Linked DNA regions of Homo sapiens. The protein of the gene in region 1 interacts with the protein of each later gene in a pairwise test. Each region holds a gene or a part of one and is shown in the gene's direction. Other genes may lie near its edges. The genes, in order: SMAD5, RYR2, SOX7, BCAT1, PPIL4, MTMR10 and CXXC5.

Evidence for each region.
Region 2: the proteins of SMAD5 (region 1) and RYR2 interact in a two-hybrid assay, tested with the Homo sapiens proteins (one large-scale study listed by BioGRID and IntAct).
Region 3: the proteins of SMAD5 (region 1) and SOX7 interact in a two-hybrid assay, tested with the Homo sapiens proteins (one large-scale study listed by BioGRID and IntAct).
Region 4: the proteins of SMAD5 (region 1) and BCAT1 interact in a two-hybrid assay, tested with the Homo sapiens proteins (one large-scale study listed by BioGRID and IntAct).
Region 5: the proteins of SMAD5 (region 1) and PPIL4 interact in a two-hybrid assay, tested with the Homo sapiens proteins (one large-scale study listed by BioGRID and IntAct).
Region 6: the proteins of SMAD5 (region 1) and MTMR10 interact in a two-hybrid assay, tested with the Homo sapiens proteins (one large-scale study listed by BioGRID and IntAct).
Region 7: the proteins of SMAD5 (region 1) and CXXC5 interact in a two-hybrid assay, tested with the Homo sapiens proteins (one large-scale study listed by BioGRID and IntAct).

The regions. Positions count from the first base shown.
Region 1 is NC_000005.10:136,139,345-136,142,844, forward strand, and holds part of SMAD5 (mothers against decapentaplegic homolog 5), read left to right. Parts: intron 1-3,500. UniProt on the Homo sapiens protein: Transcriptional regulator that plays a role in various cellular processes including embryonic development, cell differentiation, angiogenesis and tissue homeostasis.
Region 2 is NC_000001.11:237,831,836-237,834,488, forward strand, and holds the end of RYR2 (ryanodine receptor 2), read left to right. Parts: intron 1-716; coding exon 717-812; 3' UTR 813-2,153; downstream 2,154-2,653. UniProt on the Homo sapiens protein: Cytosolic calcium-activated calcium channel that mediates the release of Ca(2+) from the sarcoplasmic reticulum into the cytosol and thereby plays a key role in triggering cardiac muscle contraction. Aberrant channel activation can lead to cardiac arrhythmia.
Region 3 is NC_000008.11:10,723,268-10,727,511, reverse strand, and holds the end of SOX7 (transcription factor SOX-7), read left to right. Parts: intron 1-845; coding exon 846-1,774; 3' UTR 1,775-3,744; downstream 3,745-4,244. UniProt on the Homo sapiens protein: Binds to and activates the CDH5 promoter, hence plays a role in the transcriptional regulation of genes expressed in the hemogenic endothelium and blocks further differentiation into blood precursors.
Region 4 is NC_000012.12:24,942,602-24,946,101, reverse strand, and holds part of BCAT1 (branched-chain-amino-acid aminotransferase, cytosolic), read left to right. Parts: intron 1-3,500.
Region 5 is NC_000006.12:149,518,544-149,522,043, reverse strand, and holds part of PPIL4 (peptidyl-prolyl cis-trans isomerase-like 4), read left to right. Parts: intron 1-872; coding exon 873-984; intron 985-3,500. UniProt on the Homo sapiens protein: PPIases accelerate the folding of proteins. It catalyzes the cis-trans isomerization of proline imidic peptide bonds in oligopeptides.
Region 6 is NC_000015.10:30,946,629-30,950,128, reverse strand, and holds part of MTMR10 (myotubularin-related protein 10), read left to right. Parts: intron 1-1,657; coding exon 1,658-1,827; intron 1,828-2,828; coding exon 2,829-2,999; intron 3,000-3,349; coding exon of another isoform or gene 3,350-3,403; exon of another isoform or gene 3,404-3,500.
Region 7 is NC_000005.10:139,679,349-139,681,865, forward strand, and holds part of CXXC5 (CXXC-type zinc finger protein 5), read left to right. Parts: intron 1-498; exon of another isoform or gene 499-592; intron 593-1,015; 5' UTR 1,016-1,175; coding exon 1,176-2,099; intron 2,100-2,517. UniProt on the Homo sapiens protein: May indirectly participate in activation of the NF-kappa-B and MAPK pathways. Acts as a mediator of BMP4-mediated modulation of canonical Wnt signaling activity in neural stem cells.

The DNA.
Region 1 (3,500 bases):
CATTTTATTCATATGGTTAATGTGTATAAAACTTAACCCTGAATCTTCCTTTAGCTTTCTTATCTGCATTTGCCAAATCAGTTGATGTCAAACCCCATTCTTCCAGTTGTCCAGGCTGATACCTTGGAATCATTGTTAACTCCTTTGTTCTCATACACCCCATGATCTCCTTCATCAGGAAGCTTACTGTCTTTCATATGTCTGCTGCTCACCACCCCACTGCTATCACCCTGGTTGTAAGCCATCGTCATCTTCTCCCCTCCCTTAGATTACTGCATCTCTGAACTGGTCTCGCTGCTTTTATCATTGCTGTCCACCCCTCCTCCTGCTTATTCTCAACATACCAGCCAGGATTTATTTATTTATTTTGAGACGGAGTCTTGTGCTGTCACCCAGGCTGGAGTGCAGTGGCATGATCTTGGCTCACTGCTACCTTGACCTCTTGGGCTCAAGTGATCCTCCCACCTCAGCCTCCTAAGTAGATGGGATCACAGGCATGTGCCACTGCACCTGGCTAATTTTTTAATTAAAAACAATTTTTTTTTGTAGAGATGGAGTTTTAAAAACTATGTTGCCCAGGCTAGGCTTGAACCGCTGAGCTCAAGTGATTCTCCTGCCTTGGCCTTCCAAAGTACTGGGATTACAGGCATGAGCCACCACGCCTGGCCCAGGATAACTCTTTTTTTTTTTTTTTTTGAGATGAAGTCTAGCTTTGTTGGCCAGGCTAGAGTGCAGTGGTATGATCTTGGCTCACTGCAACCTCTGCCTCCCGGGCTCAAGCAATTCTCCTTCCTCAGCCTCCCAAGTAGCTGGAATTACAGGCACATGCCACCACACCCAGCTAATTTTTGTATTTTTCGTAGAGACGGGGTTTCACCATGTTCGCCAGGCTGGTCTTGAACTCCTGACCTCAGGTAATTTGCCCACCTCGGCCCAGGATAATTCTTTAATAGTGTAAGTCGAGAACTATCATGTCTGTGCTCAGAGCTCTCCACTGAGTTCACAGTTTCCTTAGAGTACTGTAAAAGCTAAAGCCTTTATATCCAGCATGGCCATTCTGGCTCTCTGGTATCTCTTTGACCCCACTCCTTACCTTTTCCCCCTCGTACACTGTGTTCTCAGGCTATACTGGTCTTCTAGCCAGTATATGCTCTTCATGCCAGAAGCATGCCAGACATGCTCCTACCTTAGGATCTTTGCATTGCCTGTTGCCTTTACCTGTAATGGTTTTCCCCTAGATATATGCCTGTTGGCTCACTCTTTTATTTCCTTAACATTTTAACTCAGTTGGCACCTTCTTGGTGAGACCCAGCCCAGCCACCCTGTTTAAAATTACACCTCTCTTCCAGGACTTCTTGTCCACCTTCCCCTGTTTTAATTTTTCTCTATAGCACTTTTCACCTAACAAACATATCATTTACTATATCTCGTTGGCCTCCTTCTGCTGGAATATAAGCTAAATGAAGACAAGTGTTTTGGTTCCTTTTATTCACTTCTATATTCCCAGCTCCTAAAATGCTATCTTAATAAATATTCTTTTGGATGAATGACTTGAATGAATTTGACAAGTTATTGTAATGTATGTGGTACTGTTTTTTAAAGATTATATTCTAGTGCGAGAGACAGAAATAAAGTAAATGAACAAATTATTATGAATCAGTTAATACAGTGAAGAAAATGAACATAGTATTGGATTAGAGATTAGGGAAACTCTATATAGGATTATGGGGTGATCAGGGAAGGTATCTGGGATGAGAGCTAAAGCTGAGACTTAAATAACGATAGAGCTAAAAATTAGTGGCCAGGGATTAAGAAAAGTGGTATAAGCAGAAAATGGCATTTGTAATATCTGAGGTTCAAAAGACATTCCAGTATAGGAAGATAAATGCTTTTGAAGAATGAGTTCTTACTAATATTTATTGGGAGCAGGAATAATGCTTCTGGAGTTTGATTTCATTGTTTTGAGGAGCAACAGCTCATTTGTAGTAACAGGACACACTGTGAAAAGTGCTAGATACCTGGATTACATGCCCTTTCTCTGTCTCTCTGTGTTCCTCTAGTAACTTGAGTTTATCTCATTGTACTTACATATAGGGGTATAGTTTGGTGTCTGTCGTGCTACGTTATTCTGTGAAGGGAGATTCTGTCCCGTTTGCATTTTTGCTATTCCCACTCTTCACTCATATAGTACCTTTGTATGGGACTTAGAAAAAGGCCTTCTCATTTATTCCTTCACCCTTGGCTAGTGCTGATAAACCCCTGCATGTCCTACAATGTCTGCTAGTTAGTAGGTGCTCAATAAGTGTTTAATGATTCATGGCTGTTATAGCTGCTGAGTCAGTTAATGCACATATACTTAAAGAAGTAGGTGTACCTTATGATAATCATTTCTGTATTTCTGTTGATTAACCTAGAGTACTATAGTTATGGAAGTATTTGTACCTAGTTTCTGATTTGATTTTTCTTAGTTTCAACCTCCAAATTTGTATAACCCCAAGTATATTAGAGAGAATTGTTTTGAAGCAGGAATGACTCATGATAATGTAAATCCTCTCTTTAGTAAGGGTTCATAATATGGCTGAGGTATAGCTGCACTTTAATTTTGAAACCTGTTTTTCCTCTGACTCTTCAAGAAATATGTTTATTTTAAAAAATATAGAATTAGATGAAGCAGAAAGTGAAAAGTACACCTAACCCCACCACCAGAGCTAATATCACAAACCCTTTCTTTCATTAAACAAATATTTATTGAGCATATGTATCACTAGGCTTACAGTGATGAGTGAAAACAGATACAGCTCTTCTCGTGGAATTTACATTCTTGTGGGGACAGATTTGAAAGGTAAATGTAAAAACATAGGTGTGGTAAGTGCTACAAAGTAGGAGTATGTGATGCGGTAAGCATATAAGAGGGGGACTTCTAGCCAGGACGGTTTGGGAAGACTTCCCCGAAGAAGGGATGCTTGAGCTGAAAGAGAGGTGAGGTGTGTGTGTGTTTTGTAATGTGATAGATTCATTTGTAATTCATGATATACCGTAATTTTATAAGGTTTTCATTTATGGCTGAGGTACCACTGCATCTCTTTTGGTACACTAATGACGTTCTGTGTTCAGTCAGTGGTTGCAGTTTTTCAGAAGAATCAGGGAACCTCACGTACACAGGAATTTCTAAATATTATGATTACCTTGGTTTTCTTTCTAGCTTTGAGGTCATTTCTCTAAGAAATGACAAAATACATCAATAAAAGGGTATTATCAAGTCAAGTCTTCATAAACCAAAGGTATACTATGAAAGGCCAAGATAATAGCAGATAATGGGTTCATAGCTGTTAAGTCCCTCCAGTTTCTAGTGTAAGAAGGAGCATACCTTCCTGTCTGTTCAATTATTGGCTCTCTGTGCTTGGTGTACATTTTTTTAAACTCAATTTTAATGCCCTATTTCTGTTGGCTATCATATGGAAATAAATATAGGATAAAACTAAGTGATAGGCTAAATGGCA
Region 2 (2,653 bases), on another chromosome or scaffold:
TGAGTTCTTAATTATTGCATAATGTCTTTGTTTAATCAGATAGATGATTTCCAATGAACTTCAAAGTATTATGTACAATGCATGTTAAATGCCTAAGGTGTTTAAGCTATTTGAAATTCCTCTTCCACTGTGCAGATTGTTAGTAGTTTGAATTTGAAGGATACGATATTTTAAGAGAACCCTCAGAAGCATAAATGTATATATATACACACACACATATATTTTTTGAGACAAGGTCTTGCTGTTTTGCCAAGTTCAAGTGGCATGATCAGGACCTACTACAGCCTTGACTTCCTGGGCTCAATAAATCCTCCTGTTTCAGCCCCACAAGTACCTGAAACTACAGGCATGCACCACCACACCTGGCTTTTTTTTGTGTTTTTTTTTTTTTAATTTTAGTACAGACAAGATCTCTTATGTTGCTCAGGCTGGTCTTGAATGCCTGAACTCAAGCGATCCTCCCACCTCAGCCTCCCAAAATGCTGGGATTATAGGCTTGAGCCAGTGTGCCCAGCCAACATATTTTTATCATTATAATGGTCAGGATGAAGATTATTATGAGACGTTAAGGTCTGGTATAGTTAGTTAGGAACCATCTAAATTAATGTGGACTTCTCTATTCCGTGCGATATAGGTAACAGAATTGAGTTTCTACCTTATGTTTTGTTAGCACACACTTTGGGGAAAATGTTAATACATTTCCTTGACTTTTGCAGGAATCTTATGTCTGGAAGATGTATCAAGAAAGGTGTTGGGAATTTTTCCCAGCAGGGGATTGCTTCCGGAAACAGTATGAAGACCAGCTAAATTAAACTCAGACCCAATCACCTCTAAAAACCAAAACCCTACCCCTCTCTCTCCCTCTCTCAATTTCTCTGCTCTCTTGGAAACATTTTGCTGATTTTGTGAATTGCCAGCGTTGTGTGTTTTCTGGGAGCATCGAAGCTCTGTTTCGGAAGAGCTGTTTCCTCCCCCCACCTTTTGTATTTACTTTGAGACTAAAGACTGAAGAATAATCTAAATTCATACTCAGACAAAAAAAGGAATTCTGGAAAGAAAACCATTCTGGACACTGTCATAACACACATAGATAGATTTTCTTCTGAGACTCCCGGAGTCTTCTCGAGCTACGAGACCTTCACAGAGACACGTGGCAGCCACACTCACCCAGCCTCTTTATTTCACCATCCTGGAAGGAAACTGTCTGTCTAATGGTCACAGAGCACTGTAGCACTTAACAGATTGCCATGGACACCAGTTGCGAAGGGAAATAGTGCCTTACTATATGTGGGTTGAGCTATGCAGAAGATACGTGCATGAAAAAACATCTTTATTTTCTTTATGTCGACCTTTCTTTTCTTAGATTGATTTTGTGAGGTTTTTTTTTTTTCCTTTAGTCTTTTCTTTAGTGGGGGAGGGTAAGAAAAGCAGTTTGCACTTAAAAAGAAAAAAAAAAAACGGGTGGTGTGTCTCAGGACAAAAGGAGGCTCTTCTCATTCAGCTAAATTCACATTTGCCCCCCCCCCCCGCCCCCGCCCCCATATGCTCCTGCTATTATTTTGGTAATGCTCTGATGCAACATTGCAACTTTATGAAATCTTTGTATGAAAACAAAAAGACTGCAAAAAATACACTTTCAAAAGAAACCATTCATTGCATGTTTATTATGCAAGTTTAAATGAACAAAGAAAACCTTCAGAAACAAGTTGATCAACGTGAGAGAAATTTCATGATAATTATTCATAGTAATAAAGTGTCGTGGGCTTAATTGTATATCTGGAGCCAGTGTCATCCACCAACAATGTGATACAATATGAACTTGACAGTAGTTTTGGGTTTTGCTCATTCTTTCAGCCACCTGTGATCAGTTTTGTTGATTAAGGACTTCTTGTCAGGCCATTTTTTAATATCAAAGCTGAAGCAATATCCATTCAGGGATTTCATCAGTTGCATCACAAAACACGGATGATAATATACATCACTCCATTTTTTCCATTTTGAGTCCTTTTAAATGTAATGCTAACCTTTACAATTAAAAAGTCAGATTCAGAATGGAAACAAGGTCATTTTGCAAACATTGGAGCTCTTTTATTACAAGTCTGCTTGTTAATTTTAGAACTGTAAAACCGCTCTGATTAAACTATTTAACTAACTTTCTCATCCTCTTCTTTCTCCATTTAAAACTTATAACTGGGACTCATAAAATCTTGAGCTTCTAACTTGAGGTGGATATAGGACAATCCTAAACACTGCACTGAGACCTTTAACGCTGTCAGATTTCCTGGTACCTCTAAGACTGTTGTGTATATAATTGTGGGGCCTCAGAGTCACCAGGCACCTGGCCCACCCCTGTCATTTCCCTGTTATATGGGTCAGCCAGACCTCTTGAAAACCTCCAATGACAGAAAAAAAAGATCGCTATCTCCCAGATTATTTAATTTTTATATAGCTCTCATTTTTGAAAGCTCTTCCTTGCTCAGGGCAAATTCATTTCCTATAATAATAGGAGTTCATTTTCTGTCTTAATATGAAAGAGAATCGGTACCCTAGCATGTGGTGTATTAAACATTCAAAACCCAATTGAACATTTGCTGTGTGCAAAGTGCTGCTGTGGGTACCGGTGACTTCTCCGTCATCTTACACCTCACCAGCA
Region 3 (4,244 bases), on another chromosome or scaffold:
GAGAGTGTCACAATATCTTTATTTTATACTGAAGAAAATAGAGACTCTGGAAAGTGCAGGGAATGGCTTCTGCATGGAGATCTGTGGCTAAGCAGGTGCCCTGGCACCGTCAAGGGTCCCCAAAAGATGGCTGGCTGGAAGTGACGGTTTGCATGTATATGTGTGTGCATGCATGTGTCTGGGTGTGCGTATATGTGTTGCAAGCAGATGCTAGCATTCTGGCCTCAGTCATCCAGCAGGGTTCTATTCGACCTTCAGAGGTAAGGAATAGGTATTTGTTAACCTAAGTGAGAATCTCTGATTTACTGACATCTGTGAAAGTATTGACTGAGCCTGGGTTCCCTCCCAGAAAGGGCTGTGAGATTTATGCCATAGGTAAATATGATAGTATCTCTTTAGCCTGCACTAATCAATGAAGGCAGAGATTTTCATGAGAATACACAAATGTTTAGAATGGACCCTGGAAGGGTAAAAAGAGCCCCAATCAATATCGTGATCATTAGATATTTTCTTCCCGTAGCTGACATATGGTCAGGTGGGCTTTTCACTGGGGACCCCGCATTGTAGTGTGGGCACGCTCTGGCGGCTTTTATATGAGAGGTGATGCTTTCTGTGTGCACCGTGCACGATCTGGCTTTCTGGATGCAAGCAGAGGGGTTGATTTCGCTTCACTGTGCCTGCAGGATCTGGGCTGGGAAGAGGGTGCAAGAGATGCCCGTGTCCTCTGTGGCTGGGAGGGGGAAGGGAGGTGTGTGTGCATGTGCACGTGTGTGTGCACGCGTGTGCATGTGCGATGCCTGCGGGGCACAGCACTGAGCATGGCCTCCTCTGCCTTGTGTGAGCAGGAAAGTCGTGGAAGGCGCTGACGCTGTCCCAGAAGAGGCCGTACGTGGACGAGGCGGAGCGGCTGCGCCTGCAGCACATGCAGGACTACCCCAACTACAAGTACCGGCCGCGCAGGAAGAAGCAGGCCAAGCGGCTGTGCAAGCGCGTGGACCCGGGCTTCCTTCTGAGCTCCCTCTCCCGGGACCAGAACGCCCTGCCGGAGAAGAGAAGCGGCAGCCGGGGGGCGCTGGGGGAGAAGGAGGACAGGGGTGAGTACTCCCCCGGCACTGCCCTGCCCAGCCTCCGGGGCTGCTACCACGAGGGGCCGGCTGGTGGTGGCGGCGGCGGCACCCCGAGCAGTGTGGACACGTACCCGTACGGGCTGCCCACACCTCCTGAAATGTCTCCCCTGGACGTGCTGGAGCCGGAGCAGACCTTCTTCTCCTCCCCCTGCCAGGAGGAGCATGGCCATCCCCGCCGCATCCCCCACCTGCCAGGGCACCCGTACTCACCGGAGTACGCCCCAAGCCCTCTCCACTGTAGCCACCCCCTGGGCTCCCTGGCCCTTGGCCAGTCCCCCGGCGTCTCCATGATGTCCCCTGTACCCGGCTGTCCCCCATCTCCTGCCTATTACTCCCCGGCCACCTACCACCCACTCCACTCCAACCTCCAAGCCCACCTGGGCCAGCTTTCCCCGCCTCCTGAGCACCCTGGCTTCGACGCCCTGGATCAACTGAGCCAGGTGGAACTCCTGGGGGACATGGATCGCAATGAATTCGACCAGTATTTGAACACTCCTGGCCACCCAGACTCCGCCACAGGGGCCATGGCCCTCAGTGGGCATGTTCCGGTCTCCCAGGTGACACCAACGGGTCCCACAGAGACCAGCCTCATCTCCGTCCTGGCTGATGCCACGGCCACGTACTACAACAGCTACAGTGTGTCATAGAGCTGGAGGCGCCCCGTCCGGTCAGCCCTCGCGCCCTCTCCTTCTTGTGCCTTGAGTGGCAGAGGAGCCGTCCAGCCACACCAGCTTTCCTCCCACCGCTCAGGGCAGGGAGGTCTGAACTGCGGCCCCAGAGCCTTTGGCCTAAGCTGGACTCTCCTTATCCGAGTGCCGCCTCTATCCCCTTCCCCACGTTCCAGCCCCTGCAGCCCACATTTTAAGTATATTCCTTCAAGTGAGTTTTCCTCCAGCCCCTGAGAGTTGCTGTCTCCCAGTGGAATGTTCACTGACGTCTTTTCTTGGTAGCCATCATCGAAACTAATGGGGGGACAGACTTGATAGCCAAGGTCCCTTCTGGTCCAGTTTTCTGATTTAGGGTTCTCTCAAGATTAATAAAGGAAGATGGGGAAATTTGACTCATTAATGAGCTCGCTAACCTACGATCTGGTGATAATTTTGTGTGCACAGCCCAAGGACCACGAGGCTTTCTGCACTTTCTGCACCCCCTTCCAAAGTGACCACAAAATTTCAAAGGGACTCATACAATTTGAGAAAAAACAGTCAACCTGATTTGAGAAATTAACCAGTATGGCTAACTATATCACAGAAAATGGGATTGAGTTAAAACTATTTTATTTTAAATATACATTTTAAAGCAGTTCTTTTTTTTTGTTAATTTGTTTATTATACACACACTTCAAGAGAATATGCACAGTCTAGGCCGGGCACGGTGGCTCACGCCTGTAATCCCAGCACTTTGGGAGGCCGAGGCATGTGGATCACCTGAGGTCAGGAGTTTGAGACCAGCCTAGACAACATGGTGAAACCTTGTCTCTATGAAAAATACAAAATTTGCTGGGAGTGGTGGTGCATGCCTGTAATCCCAGCTACTTGGAAGGCTGAGGCAGGAGAATGTCTTGAACCTAGGAGGTGGAGGTTGCAGTGAGCTGAGATTGCACCATTGCACTCCAGCCTGTGCAACAAGAGTGAAACTCCATTTCAAGAAAAAAAAAAAAAAAAGAATATGCACAGTCTGAATGTATACCAGGAGTGTGAGAGACACATGCCCACTTCATGCAACTCCTAAACTCAAAGTCTAAATCAGATATTTTTATTAACAATGACAACTTGTTGCCAACTCCCTGTTTCTAATGACCAAAGACCCAGGGTACCTAAAAGGACTTTGCAACCAAGCAAAGTCACTGTCTTCAAATCTGGATACACACTTTCCCCTCTGTAGATTCAAAAGGTGCTTCCTTCCCGGCTGTCTCCAGCTTCCTTACTCTCTTTTCTGGGATTTCTTTTTCTCTTCTTTCTGCTCTTCCTCCACTGCTGAACTGGTCCCTAACTGAAACAGCCCCTGACTTATCCCAAGCATGCTTCCTTTAGCTGCTGTGAGAATTTGTCTTCCTCACCAGCCAGGTCCTCAGGCAAAGTCCTCAGCCAGTGCTTTAGAGCAACTTCCCGCAAATCAGAAACTCACTGTGATTCCAAAAATGTTTCTGAGCCCTGGACCCCTGCCCCCAAAATATTTTCATCTTTCCCCCAAACCTCCTTTAAAGGAGCATGCATAACAGTGTGCTGAAAGACAGTTGTTGGTTTTTTGATTTTAGCATATTATTTCCTGTATGAAATATGTTTTATATAATCTCCTATTATTTTTATCTTATGTTTTGTATTGTTGATAAATCCTTTTTGTCCTTCTAAGATGTCCTATTGTAAAATCACTTATAAGGTATGATTACTCTTTATGCTATTACTTTATATGCCATTTGGTAATAAATAGTAAATTGTTGATGATATGATTGACTGATGCGCAGTCCAGAGCATGTATGAATAATCTCATAAAACAGTATCACAGACATTAAGCTAAACTGTTTCGTTTTTTTGAAAGAACAACTCATACTTTGGAACAGTTGTCAATATTAATTTGTTGCAAATATTTAATTTAAATAAACATTTTTGTACCATGACTGTTCTATCTTTTGAAATATAGTTTTGCAAAAAGAAAAGGTTTCCAAGCAAGACATAAATGTTACATCGGGTGCTACTTGTGGTATTGATCAACATGTTTTCTACATCGACTTTTTTATTTTAAAAAGTTGTTATCTGGTAGGGATGGTTTATTTTATTTTATGAGTTATGCTAAAGAGATAAATCCAAATTTTACGCATTGGAATCTGCTGTTTTTATTGACAATGAAAGAAAATGTCAACTCATGACCTACATGTAGAACAATTTTCTCCTTGTGACGACTTTACACTCGTAAAGTGGAATGAGGTGACTATGAGGCTGTCTGAAGAAGGAAAGTAAGTTTTGTCTACTCGTTTGCTTACTTAAAACTGTCACAGCTATTTTTTTTTTTTTTTTGTATTTTTAGTAGAGACGGGGTTTCGCCATGTTGGCCAGCCTGGTCTCGAACTCCTGACCTCAGGTAATCCACCCGCCTCAGCCTCCCAAAGTGCTGGGATTA
Region 4 (3,500 bases), on another chromosome or scaffold:
AGGTTGCCAGCTTCTTTAAATGGCCTCTTCTCAACTGGTATAGGAAGTTGGAAAATAAAGAACTTTCTTTATTTCCCTTTAGTGTTGGTAACCACAGTTTCTTTAAATAACAGATGCCCACCCCAGGGAAACCCAGTGGCATGATCAGCCTTATGCTCAGGAAGGTTTGGTTGCTATACTGGAGAGTGAGAATCTGGGACCTTCCATGATAGACATAATTGTGCCAGCTATCCTCTACTTTCTATATGATGCTATCATTCTTTTTTCTTTTCTTTTTTTTGACAGAATCTCACTGTGTTGTTCAGGCTGGAGTGCCGCAGAGTGATCTCTACTCACTGCAACCTCTGCCTCCTAGGTTCAAGCAATTCTTGTGCCTCAGCCTCCTGAGAAGCTGGGATTACCACCATGCCCAGCTAATTTTCGTATTTTTTTGTAAAGACGGAGTTTTGCCATGTTGGCCAGGCTGGTCTGGAACTCCTGGCCTCAAGCGATCTGCCCATCTCGGCCTCCCAAAGTGCTGGGATTACAGGCATGTGCTATCATTCTTTTTGAGCACAGGAGGAAACTATGGCTGATCTGCTCATTTTACTGTCAAAAATATAGGCAGCTTTTGTATTGTAACATTATCCCCTTAACAGCTGTCCAACTGGTCTATACATTTCACCTAACATATGGTAAATGTTCCTACTGTTGGCCTTTCCTGAGCCTCTGTCCATTCAACTAAGGCCACTGCAATGGGATTGTATGCAGTTCAGCCAAGAAATAAATGTGAGGTGCAACTCACATTTTTTAAATGTTTCAAAATTAAGCATTTAGGTGCTTTTATTCATAAACATGACTTTGCAAATATTGGTAAACAGTTTCATCATAAGACCTTGTCAGTGACTCACAATGTCAATGGTGAACGCAAAGGAGAATCTGTCTTTTCTGGAACACCAGGTTCAGGTATCAGTTTCAACTATGCTTATAATTTGTGCTCTAAAGTCCACAAAGCTAAATTATCTTTCCCCTAAAAATTGAGTACTCATATCCTTAAAATAGCTTGGAAATTAGATTACCTTATGAATACAGCATAGCATGTCACATAAACGTTTTTCTACTGTTATACCTTTTTGGTGGGAAAGACTATTTTGCAAAACATTTTTCTTGTGTTCAGTAATTAATGGGAAAAACAAACTCTAAAAGAAAGAGACAGTTATGTCCCAAAAATACAGGAAAATGGAAGAATGGAAACAGGGAAGACCAATAAAGAAAAAAATAGAGGAAATTACAAGTAATAAACTGAAGTCATACTGAAAAACATATGGCTCTTTCTTATTGAAAGTTGTGAAATACTTGCAAAACTCAGCTAGTTCCATTAAGAATAGTCTTTAATCTAAAAAGAACAAATTCATTTGTCAGTTCTTTATTTCGGTGTGTAGATTTGAATGTTTCATCAATTGCATTTACGGTTTATCCCTCAGTGTGAGAACTGTTTTTGCTGTTTTGACTATAAATGGATATCTGCTTTAGGAAGACTTAGGAAGCCTGGGACATAGGATTACAGATCAAATTCTATTTGACTCCATAGAAGTTGAGACGGAAGGAGCACCTGTTGGGATATTCTAGACCAAACATTCCACAGCTGTCTCTTAACGTGACTGACAAAGAGACACAGTTGAGACGAAGTTTGGGTATATCCTGGGATGAGGCCAAGGGTGGATTTGCACAGGATGGTCACAGGGCAGTTGTTAGCATTCCACCACTACATAAAAGGGTGATTTTGCCAAGTGCATTTCATTTCATTTCAGTTGATTTAGATACCAAGTTATATTGTTTTGACTTTAGGACTAGATGTGAGTTCAGGAATTTGAAATCATAATAAATGTTTCCTTGAACTTTGAAGATAAAAGGTAGAGTTAAAAGACAGCTGCGAAGTCTACATGGGGAAGCATAATACATGACTCAGGGTTCCATGGTTTTCAGTGTCGGTGAGTGCTCTGTACACTTATAAGAATAGTGCTGGTGTTTATAGAAGAAACACATGCAGGTTTGAGGCAAGACTTCCTTGCTTAATTGGTGCTTTTGCTTTCCATTTTCTAAATGCCATGCAAACTACTTTTTTTTTTTTCTTTTGTTGAGACGGAGTCTTGCTCTGTCACCCAGGCTGGAGTACAGTGGTGCGATCTCGGCTCACTGCAAGCTCCGCCTCCTGGGTTCACGCCATTCTCCTGCCTCAGCTTCCTGAGTAGCTGGGACTACAGGCGCCCGCCACCACGCCCGGCTAATTTTTTGTATTTTTTGTAGAGACGGGGTTTCACCATGTTAGCCAGGAAGGTCTTGATCTCCTGACCTCGTGATCTGCCCGCCTCGGCCACCCAAGGTGCTGGGATTACAGGCGTGAGCCACCGCTCCCGGCCTCAAACTACTTTAACTGAAAACATTCTTCTAAGGAAAGCATCAGAAAACTTACTAGAATTGCTTAAGAATAAATAAATAATACAAATAAAAGAGCAAAATGAGAAAGTAGACAGACTCCTAGTCTATTGTGCTATTGATCTCTCCAGGTTCTAGGCTTTCTTGGGTCTGACACCACTTTGTAAATTTTTTTTTTTTTTTTTTTTTTTTTCCAGATAGGGTCTCATTCTGTCACCTAGGCTGGAGTGCAGTGGTACAATCATGGCTCACTTCAGCTTCAACCTCCTGGGCTCAAGTGATCTTCCTGCCTCAGCTCCCTGAGTAGCTGGGACCACAGGCATGTGCCACCACGCCCGGTGAATTTTTGTATTTTTTGTAGAGATGGGGTTTCTCCATGTTGCACTGGCTGGTCTTGAACTCCTGGGCTCCAGTGATCCACCCACCTTGGCCTCCAAAGTGCTGGGATTACAGGCATCCGTCACTGCACTGGGCCAGTTTGTAAATCTTATGAAAAGTATGGCCAATCTTTTGCAAAATGTGCAAACACATATAGACACAAAGTTTTATATCTAAATTATTGGTTATTAAAGCCAGGACAATAGAGTGCATATAGCATGGAAGACAGGTAGAAAAGACTGAAATGGTTTAGTTATTCAGAGCAGTGGAGGGCTATTGGCTCTTGCCTTTGCAGTCAGCTGAGATATGAAACTATATAAGCAGAAGCTTCACGCTGCCATTTGAATATTGAAAATCTCCACTTTTAGTTCAAGAGATAAACAACCAATGGTTTGTTTGTTCACAGCACATAAGTTATCACTTTCTTCTCTGTTTCATCCCATCAAGATCTAAGGTGTATAGTTACAGAATAGAACTCGGTTCATACCATATGCACCCTAATTTCTTCGATCTTCAACTAGTTTGGAAGTGTGTGTGGGTGTTTTCTTAGCCAAGGTTAATATGCAATTTCTTAGTGGAGTGTAGGAGTTTGGGGTGCCTAGCCTTCCTACTTCCCACTTAGATAACTTCCCCTACCTGTTGTACCTGTCAAAGGAGAAGGCCAGTATGGCCATGTTCTTTGCAGGTGACTCCACCTTAGCCACAGC
Region 5 (3,500 bases), on another chromosome or scaffold:
ATTCATTTAATTATTGACATGTAATAAATATGATTATAACTATTTTATCTGCTTCTCTTTGGATTATCTCTAGTAAGAATAAGTTTCCAGGAATGTAAAAGAAAATTGGTCAGTACTGAGTTGAAATATGTAACTGTCAGTGTCAGAAACAGGGATTTAGAATTGTGAAGTTACTGACAGGAAGGATTCTTGTGTAGCACAGAGCTTGGTATTACAGTCTCACAGTTCATTATCTAAAACCCTTGAGAATAACTAGGCTTCCTAATTCAGAATTTTTCAGAATTCAGAAAGGTAATACTGTATATATGCATACACACATACACATTACATCTGTGATTATGTAATACCTTTCTGGGTCAGCATTCCATAATCTGTCACAAAAGTATTTCTGCAGTGAAACAAATGAATATTCATACTAAGTGGATAAAAAAAGGTCATAACCTACCATTAGGTTTGGTGTTACTGCCAAATTAATTTTAACAACAAACTTAGGAACACAACTTTCACTTTCCAGGATGTTTTTGAATTTTGAGTAAAAAGGATTGTGAACCTGTATAATACAGTCAGTAAGTGTATATTTATCTGTTCACTGCAGTTGGACTGTCTCTCTAAAATCCTGGCTCTGACCCTTGCCAACAACTTCTATACTTCTCTAAACTTCTGTTTTCTCATTAAGAAAATGGATAGTACCTCATGGGGTTGTTACCAGAGGTATTTGAGGTAATAGATACAAAGCATTTAACAGCATCGGGTGTGTAATAAGTATTCAAACATTAATTTTTGTAACAACAAACTTTTTGTATTTTCAGTATTCTAGCTACAGAAATCTTTTCCATAAAGATTTATGCTTGAGTTTTTATAATTATTATCAGGAAGAAGATTGTGAGAAAGCATTCTTCAAAATGGACAATGTGCTTATAGATGACAGAAGAATACATGTGGATTTTAGCCAGTCGGTTGCAAAGGTTAAATGGAAAGGAAAAGGTATGATGGTTTATCTTTTGTTTTTGTTCTGCTTTTTTTTTTTTTTTGAGATGGAGTCTCGCTCTGTTGCCCAGGCTGGAGTGCAGTGGCACGATCTTGGTTCACTGCAACCTGTGTCTCCCAGGTTCAAGCCATTCTCATGCCTCAGCCTCCCAAGCAGCTGGGATTACAAGCATGTGCCACCATGCCCAGCTAATTTTTGTATTTTTAGTAGAGATGGGGTTTCACCACGTTGGCCAGGCTGGTCTCGAACTCCTGACCTCAGGTAATCCACCGCCTTGGCCTCTCAAAGTGCTGGGATTACAGGCGTGAGCCACTGCGCCCGGCCTTGTTTTTGTTATGCTTTTCATGCTTGTATGAGCCTTTTATTGAGTGCTGTTAATTAGGAGAAATATTAATTGATGTAACTCCTGCCATTTGTAATTTTACAAACCTGCTATCTAGAATCTGAGGTAGAGTGTGTGTGTGTGTGTGTGTGCACACACATGCATGTGTGCACCTGTGCGTGTATTTTAAACTGATGAAAAATTATATTTTCTATGTTTGACTATATTATAAATTACTAATAATTACCCACTGCAGACATGATATGTTTCCAAAGTAATTATTTTGACTTTATGGTGTTTTGAGTCTTTTAGGTGCACAACTTAAATTTTTTTTGTTTGTTTTAGTTGTCATATGATGCAAAATAGAAAAGGTCCATGGAAAGGTAGATAAAAGTCTCATTCATTCCTGCTCCTCATCTATCTAATTTCTCTTCCAGGGTAACCATTATCACCTATTGGTACTAACTTTCCCCTACATTTTTTGAATACATATGTGCATATATATATATATGATTTTCTCCTTTTAAAAAGGAAAATATAAAACAAAGGATGCAGGCTATACATACTGTTTTTGTACCTTGCATTTTTTAATTAACAGTGTATCTAAGAGATCAGTTCATATCAGTATATAAAATGAACCAGCCCTGTTAATGGGTTTTCTAAATTTTTACTCTTCCATGTCCATAGCAGTATGTTCCACCTTTGTACATATTACATTTCCCACATACACATACATATATGTCAAATACATTGCTCGTAGCATGTCAGTCTTAAAAGTTGGGTCTCTCATATGTTGAAATAATACGAGTTTTTGGTTTTTGATGCAGTGTTTTTAACAGGTTTCACTTTGATAGTTACTCACATGTAATGCTAAATTTTACTGGGAATTTCAGGGTTACTTTCTTTTTCTATAACACTTATTTCCCATGCTTTTAATGAACTGTTTTTTTTGTCTGTTTTTAGTAAGAAAGAAAAACACTATTTAGTTGTGAATTGCTGAATTGTTTGGTGGATTCTGTTACCTTATGGGAGTTCAGAGAAGGAAGAAATTATTAATGTGACTAAAGTAGGCAAGGAATGTTGAGTGGAAGCTGTGATCTCTGTGATAAAGGAGAGGGTGACTTGGATTGGAGTTCCATGTACTATTAGTTTCTCCTGTGAAACCTTACCTCCTCCTAGAACACATGGCTAGTTTTTGACAGTGCTGTTTGAGTGATTTGTGAAACCTAAATTGAAGCACTAAGATTTTTTTCCACATATGAAAATTACAACTTTGTGAATGAAAGATTCCAGTAAGTATATTCAAAGTGTTGGTGAGCTGCTGGCCTGATGCAGTGTAGTTCTGGCCAGTAGTAATGCCAGGTGGCTCTTATGTAGAGCTCTGCTTCCAAAGAGCTAGTTTAATTGTATCATTTGGGAAGTGTATGAAATAAATATTATAATTCCTCATTATAGATATGGAATTTGAGGCATAATCTTGAGAAGTGATTTACCTAGAGTCACATACACAGATGATTTAGACAGACCCTACATTTGGTTTGTTTTTTACCCTCTCAATCCTGTCTTCTTCTCAACCCATCCACCCATTGAATAAATACTACTACTTTCTTGTGACTTTTAAATAAATTTCTTCATGTTTTTTCCTAAGATAAAATGTCACATAGGAGGGAGAAGCTTTGGTTTTGTATATGCCATCATAAACATACAGTTTATTATTCTCAGTTAATTTTGAGATAATTATATATGTTATTGATTCACATTTATAAACTTAATGTGTATAATGTGCCATTCACAGCACTAAGAACTTTCCTTTATAGTCTGATGATTCCAGCAACTCTGTGAAATGTTGGTATTATTTTCAGTTTATAAATGAAGATAATGTAAATAAAGATAATGAATTGCAGAGAAGTGGTGTCTTACCTAGGACCTCCCACTACAGTCAAGAACCTCTTACATTAATCTGGTGCCCTTTCTGTTATACGGTAACTGCTTCATCCATAGTGAGACTTTTAATGGCAGGCAGATGGCAAATAATTTTTCAATGATAAATGATGGCTGTTTGTTACCATTACCAGTTATTTTAACTCTTGCAGTAGACTGTTTCACATTTATGGGAAACATTGCTGGCCACTTTTGTTTCTGGAGTCTCTGGAATTGCCAAATAGATTGATCTTGTCTTTTTTGCTTACC
Region 6 (3,500 bases), on another chromosome or scaffold:
CCTCAGAAGTAGCACTGAACCTTCATTTTACTAGCATTTTTATATACGTTTATTTTTAAACAGTTTGTTAAAAATTTACATACTATGGAATTCACCCATTTTTAATTTGTAATTCAGTAAATTTTAGTAAATATACAGAGTCTAGTTTTGGAAATTTTTCATCACCCCAAAAGTCCCAGCTCCAGGCAGCCACTAATCTTTCTGTCTCTAGATTTTCCCTTTCTGGGCATTTCATATAAATGGAATCATACAATATGTGGCCTTTTGCCGCTGGCTTCTTTCATTCAACATACATGTTTTTGAGGTTCATTCATGTAGTGTGTATCAGCAATCTTTTCCTTTTTATTTCTGAATTGTATTCCACTGTTTGTAAATGCATTTTGCTTACCCATTTACCTGTTGATGGACATTTGGGTTGTTTCCACTTTGTGGCTGTTATGAATTATGCTGCTTCATTTATTTAGATCTTTCATTTTATCAGCAGTGTTTTATTATGTAAGTCTTATATTTATTTTGTTAAATCTCTTAAGTATTTTATTTTTATGTCACTGTGAATATAATTGTTAATTTCATTTTCAGGTTTACTATGTACTCAGATTGTTGTGTACAGAATTTCTGTAACCTTACTGACCTCATTTATTAATTCTAGTAGTTATTTTGTGGATTCCGTAGGAGTTTTTACATACAGGATCATATTGTCTTCAAAGACAGTTTTTACCTTTTTCTTTCTGATCTGAATGCCTTTTATTTTCTTTTTCTTGCCTAATTGCTCTGGCTAGATTCTCCAGTTCAATGAGATGGAGAAGTGTAGAGAACAGACATCCTTATCATCTTCCTGATCTTAGGGAGAGAGTATCCAGTCTTTCACCAGTGAAATGGGAATAACATTAATTGTAGGTTTTTGTGGATGTCTCTGATCAGTTTAAATATGTTTACTTTTATTCCTAATCAGGAATGAAGGTAGAATTGTATCAGATGCTTTTTCCGCATCTAATGAGATAATCGTGTTGGTTTTGTCCTTTATTACTGTGGTACGTTACTACAATTGACAGATGTTAAACCAACTTTGCATTCCTGGATAATTTGGTTTACTCATATTTTTATTGATTTTTACATCTGTAATCATAAGGGATATTGGTCAATAGTTGTCTTCTGATTTCCCTGGCTGACTTTGATAGCGTGGCAATTCTGGCCTTATTGGAAAGGACAACAACTATAAAAGACAGGAGGGAATCGTTTGCCACAGCTTCAGTTGGTAGTGAACAGTCCCACTCTCCCCATTCACTTCTCAGTATTGCCATGTGGCCTGTCAGTAGAAAGATTACCTTATACTTAATACCTTGACAAAAGAGCAGTAGAATGGAGTCTAGACGGATTTTCTACCACAAACCATTCGAATGTAAAAAGTATGAGTGATGAGCTTCTATTATCTGGCAAATATCCATGTATAAAAGACCATCTCCTATTAAATGCTAATTTAGTTTATCTACAAGTCTGTAATATTTTAGAGTTGCTGGAATCCAGTAAAATTTCCTTATACAGATTTGGAAGGCAGCCTAGGTGTGCAGAATACTAAATTATCTAGTTTACCTTTCCTTCCCTTTCTCTCTCAGCATTTTTCTATGTTGTAATCATTTTCTTTCCATTTTATTAACAGAGGAGGAAGGAAGAGACTTGAGCTGTTGTGTAGCTTCTCTTGTTCAAGTGATGCTGGATCCCTATTTTAGGACAATTACTGGATTTCAGAGTCTGATACAGAAGGAGTGGGTCATGGCAGGATATCAGTTTCTAGACAGATGCAACCATCTAAAGAGATCAGAGAAAGAGGTAACAAAATCTTGATGCCTTTTTATCAGTCTTTAAGGATACACAAAATAAAATTTGTGTCATTAAAAGATGAAGGGGCTTTTAAAAAATACTGTATTTAGTACAACTTAATTTCCTTAGTCCAAAGCTAACTAATGGATTAGAGTTCAAATTGATGTACTTATTATAAAGATTATCGTAACTATGAAGGTGAAATTTTTAAAAGTTGTCTATTGAATTTGTCTAAGTGGAAAACTACTGAAAAAATTCTGAATAAAATACTGAAAAACAGATAACAAGCACATTGGCTATTTTGAAAAATCACTTTTGGAATATCATATTTTCTTAAAATGGGATACATAGGTTAAGATGAAAAGTTTGAGAGGGCCACCTTTGCAACAGCTGTGGAGTTAGTGGCTGCCTCGGATCTCTAGTTAGGCTGCGGAAGGCCTTACAAATATCTTACCGGCCAGGCAGGTCAGTCAGATCAGTTTTTAGAAGGTTGTTTCAGAGAGCGCCATTTGACTTGTGGTGTCTCATAAAAAATAGTGGTCACCCGCTACTGCACTTGGGGACACACCACGTGACCTAGGCTCATCCCAAAGTGTTTTCTGAAATATGGGGATGTTTTCTGGATGCTGAGCCTACAGGATCAACCAAACATTAGAGAAGTTTGGTTGATGGTTTTGTTTTGTTATATAATCTAAAGAATTGTTTCTAAGACATGCTTAAACACATATTTTGCTCTTCCCCCTTCATATAGTGGCAACCCGCTCAACTGTGTGCTTTGCTGTTTCAACTTGTTACATGTACTGGGCAAATAAGGGTTGTGATGTTTATCACGGTTGAATGTTACTTCTTGGGTTTGATAGATGTGTATAGCTCAGCTTAGAAGGCAAGTGTTTTAGGCTTCGATGTTTTCTCATTCATCTCTTCTTTAACATCAGCAGTACATTTTGAAGTAAATGTGAACGGCTGAAGGATAACATTAAATGATCCCATTGTCTCTTTGTATTTGCCAGTCTCCTTTATTTTTGCTATTCTTGGATGCCACCTGGCAGCTGTTAGAACAATATCCTGCAGCTTTTGAGTTCTCCGAAACCTACCTGGCAGTGTTGTATGACAGCACCCGGATCTCACTGTTTGGCACCTTCCTGTTCAACTCCCCTCACCAGCGAGTGAAGCAAAGCACGGTAAGCAACCCTGTGGCTGTGGCTACGTTTTCCCTGTTTTTACAACTTTATCGAGGCATAATTGAAGTATAATTCACTGCCTATTTAAAATCTTATGATTTAAAATTCTTACTGCCATTTTCAGCTGAAATTTCTGAATGGATTATTTTGAAGACACAAAAATCTAGGAAATTATTTTTATGAATGAACATTTTTTGTTTTACTCTAATGTAAATGTTTTGTAGTAAACCCCTTTAAAGATGTAAATTACTTTAACCACCTTAAATGTCATGCTTTTGTATTTATATTTCACATTTGGGCTATTGGGTAGTAAAAAACAAAAGCCCTGTTACACGACATTTATTTCCTAGGTCAGTAGGATAAAAAGTTGTACAAAACAAGATTATTTTCCTTCACGAGTTTGAAGTTTCTGGTCACAATTCATTGATGTAGAGGATTTATGACTAAGCAGGGTCTCAAGCCAAACTTGAAACCATTCTGAACCAAAGTGCCATTTCACCC
Region 7 (2,517 bases), 3.5 Mb from region 1:
GCCAGGGTGTGCACAAGCATGTCCTCTCACTGTGGCAGGGGACGGCTGGTCCTCTGGCCCTGTGCTGCTCGCCCTGTAGCAGGCGGGGAGAAGATCCCTGAAATAAGGGTTCTGCACTCATTGGCAAACTGGGTTACACAAAGGCAACCAGGTTCCTTTGCCTGCAGGACATGTCAGAGCCTTGAAATAACTGATGTGTATTAGTAATCCCCAGATGAGGATCCAGGGGCAGCCTTCCAGACTTAATGATCTGTACCATCAAGCACTCTTCTCCTCAGATGGAGAAGGAAGATTAGGATGTGGAGGTGGTTTTTTTCTTATTTTTATTTTTTTGACAGGATCTCACTCTGTCATCCAGGCTGGAATGCAGTGGCATGATTATAACTCACTGCATCCTCAACCTCCTGGGCTCAAGCAGTCCTCCCACCTCAGCCTCCTGAGTAGCTAGGACTACAGGCATGTACCACCACACCTGGTTAACTTTTGTATTTTTTGCAGAGATAGAGTTTCACCATGTTGTCCAGGGTGGTCTCAAAACTCCTGAGCTCAAGCGATCTGCCTGCCTCTGCTTCCCAAAGTGCTGAGATTACAGGTGTGAGCCACTGCACCCAGCTAATAAGCATCTCCAACACTCTCCCACCCCAGCACAAGAAGGACTGCCTGCTTCTGGCAGGTCTTCCTAGACCCTAGCAGAGCAGATTTGGGCTGTGGAGGCCTGGACTAGGGCCTCCACCATGCCGCTTGGTGGCTGTGTGTTCATAGACTGGTAGTTCTCCTAAATCTTGTTTCCCTCATCTATAAAGTAGATTACCAGCCACTGCTTCTAGAGTTCTTGTGGGTCTTAACTGAGATAGTACAAATAAGAAATTTCTCACCAGGATGGATCTGGTGCTTAATAAATGCCTGGTCAAGCACATGGTGGTCAGGATGACAGGACCGTTGATAGTGGCGGTGGTGGCGATGTTGAAGGGGGAGGTGTTCACTGCTGCCCTGACCCTGTATCCTCTTGTGACAGAGTGAAGACATTTCCACCTGGACACCTGACCATGTGCCTGCCCTGAGCAGCGAGGCCCACCAGGCATCTCTGTTGTGGGCAGCAGGGCCAGGTCCTGGTCTGTGGACCCTCGGCAGTTGGCAGGCTCCCTCTGCAGTGGGGTCTGGGCCTCGGCCCCACCATGTCGAGCCTCGGCGGTGGCTCCCAGGATGCCGGCGGCAGTAGCAGCAGCAGCACCAATGGCAGCGGTGGCAGTGGCAGCAGTGGCCCAAAGGCAGGAGCAGCAGACAAGAGTGCAGTGGTGGCTGCCGCCGCACCAGCCTCAGTGGCAGATGACACACCACCCCCCGAGCGTCGGAACAAGAGCGGTATCATCAGTGAGCCCCTCAACAAGAGCCTGCGCCGCTCCCGCCCGCTCTCCCACTACTCTTCTTTTGGCAGCAGTGGTGGTAGTGGCGGTGGCAGCATGATGGGCGGAGAGTCTGCTGACAAGGCCACTGCGGCTGCAGCCGCTGCCTCCCTGTTGGCCAATGGGCATGACCTGGCGGCGGCCATGGCGGTGGACAAAAGCAACCCTACCTCAAAGCACAAAAGTGGTGCTGTGGCCAGCCTGCTGAGCAAGGCAGAGCGGGCCACGGAGCTGGCAGCCGAGGGACAGCTGACGCTGCAGCAGTTTGCGCAGTCCACAGAGATGCTGAAGCGCGTGGTGCAGGAGCATCTCCCGCTGATGAGCGAGGCGGGTGCTGGCCTGCCTGACATGGAGGCTGTGGCAGGTGCCGAAGCCCTCAATGGCCAGTCCGACTTCCCCTACCTGGGCGCTTTCCCCATCAACCCAGGCCTCTTCATTATGACCCCGGCAGGTGTGTTCCTGGCCGAGAGCGCGCTGCACATGGCGGGCCTGGCTGAGTACCCCATGCAGGGAGAGCTGGCCTCTGCCATCAGCTCCGGCAAGAAGAAGCGGAAACGCTGCGGCATGTGCGCGCCCTGCCGGCGGCGCATCAACTGCGAGCAGTGCAGCAGTTGTAGGAATCGAAAGACTGGCCATCAGATTTGCAAATTCAGAAAATGTGAGGAACTCAAAAAGAAGCCTTCCGCTGCTCTGGAGGTAACGGCGCCTTAGAGGGAGGTGTGTGGGCTCTTGTGTCTGTCTGGCAGTCCAAACCCACCCCCATCCCCTGACCCCACTTTTCCTACCTGGGCAAGTGTCTGGGGGATGCCCCCTCCCAGTCCTTGGGGCCTGGGGGTCTGGCTTCAAGACACCAGTTTACTGCCCCAAAAGTCAGAGCCACATTCTGAGAATCCTATCAGGCCATAATTTGCAAGGCAAGCATAAAACTCCAGGCAAGGACCTAGCATTCTCAGCCAGGCCCTGGGATTCTGATTCCTCTCCTGGGTTCTGGGTCAGGTATTGAGATTTCCATACAGGTCCTAAGTTTCTGATGCTCAGACATGGCCTAAAGCATCCAGTCCATGACCTAGAACTCTGGGTCTCTCCCCTGCCCTGTTTAAGGGATTCTGTTTCA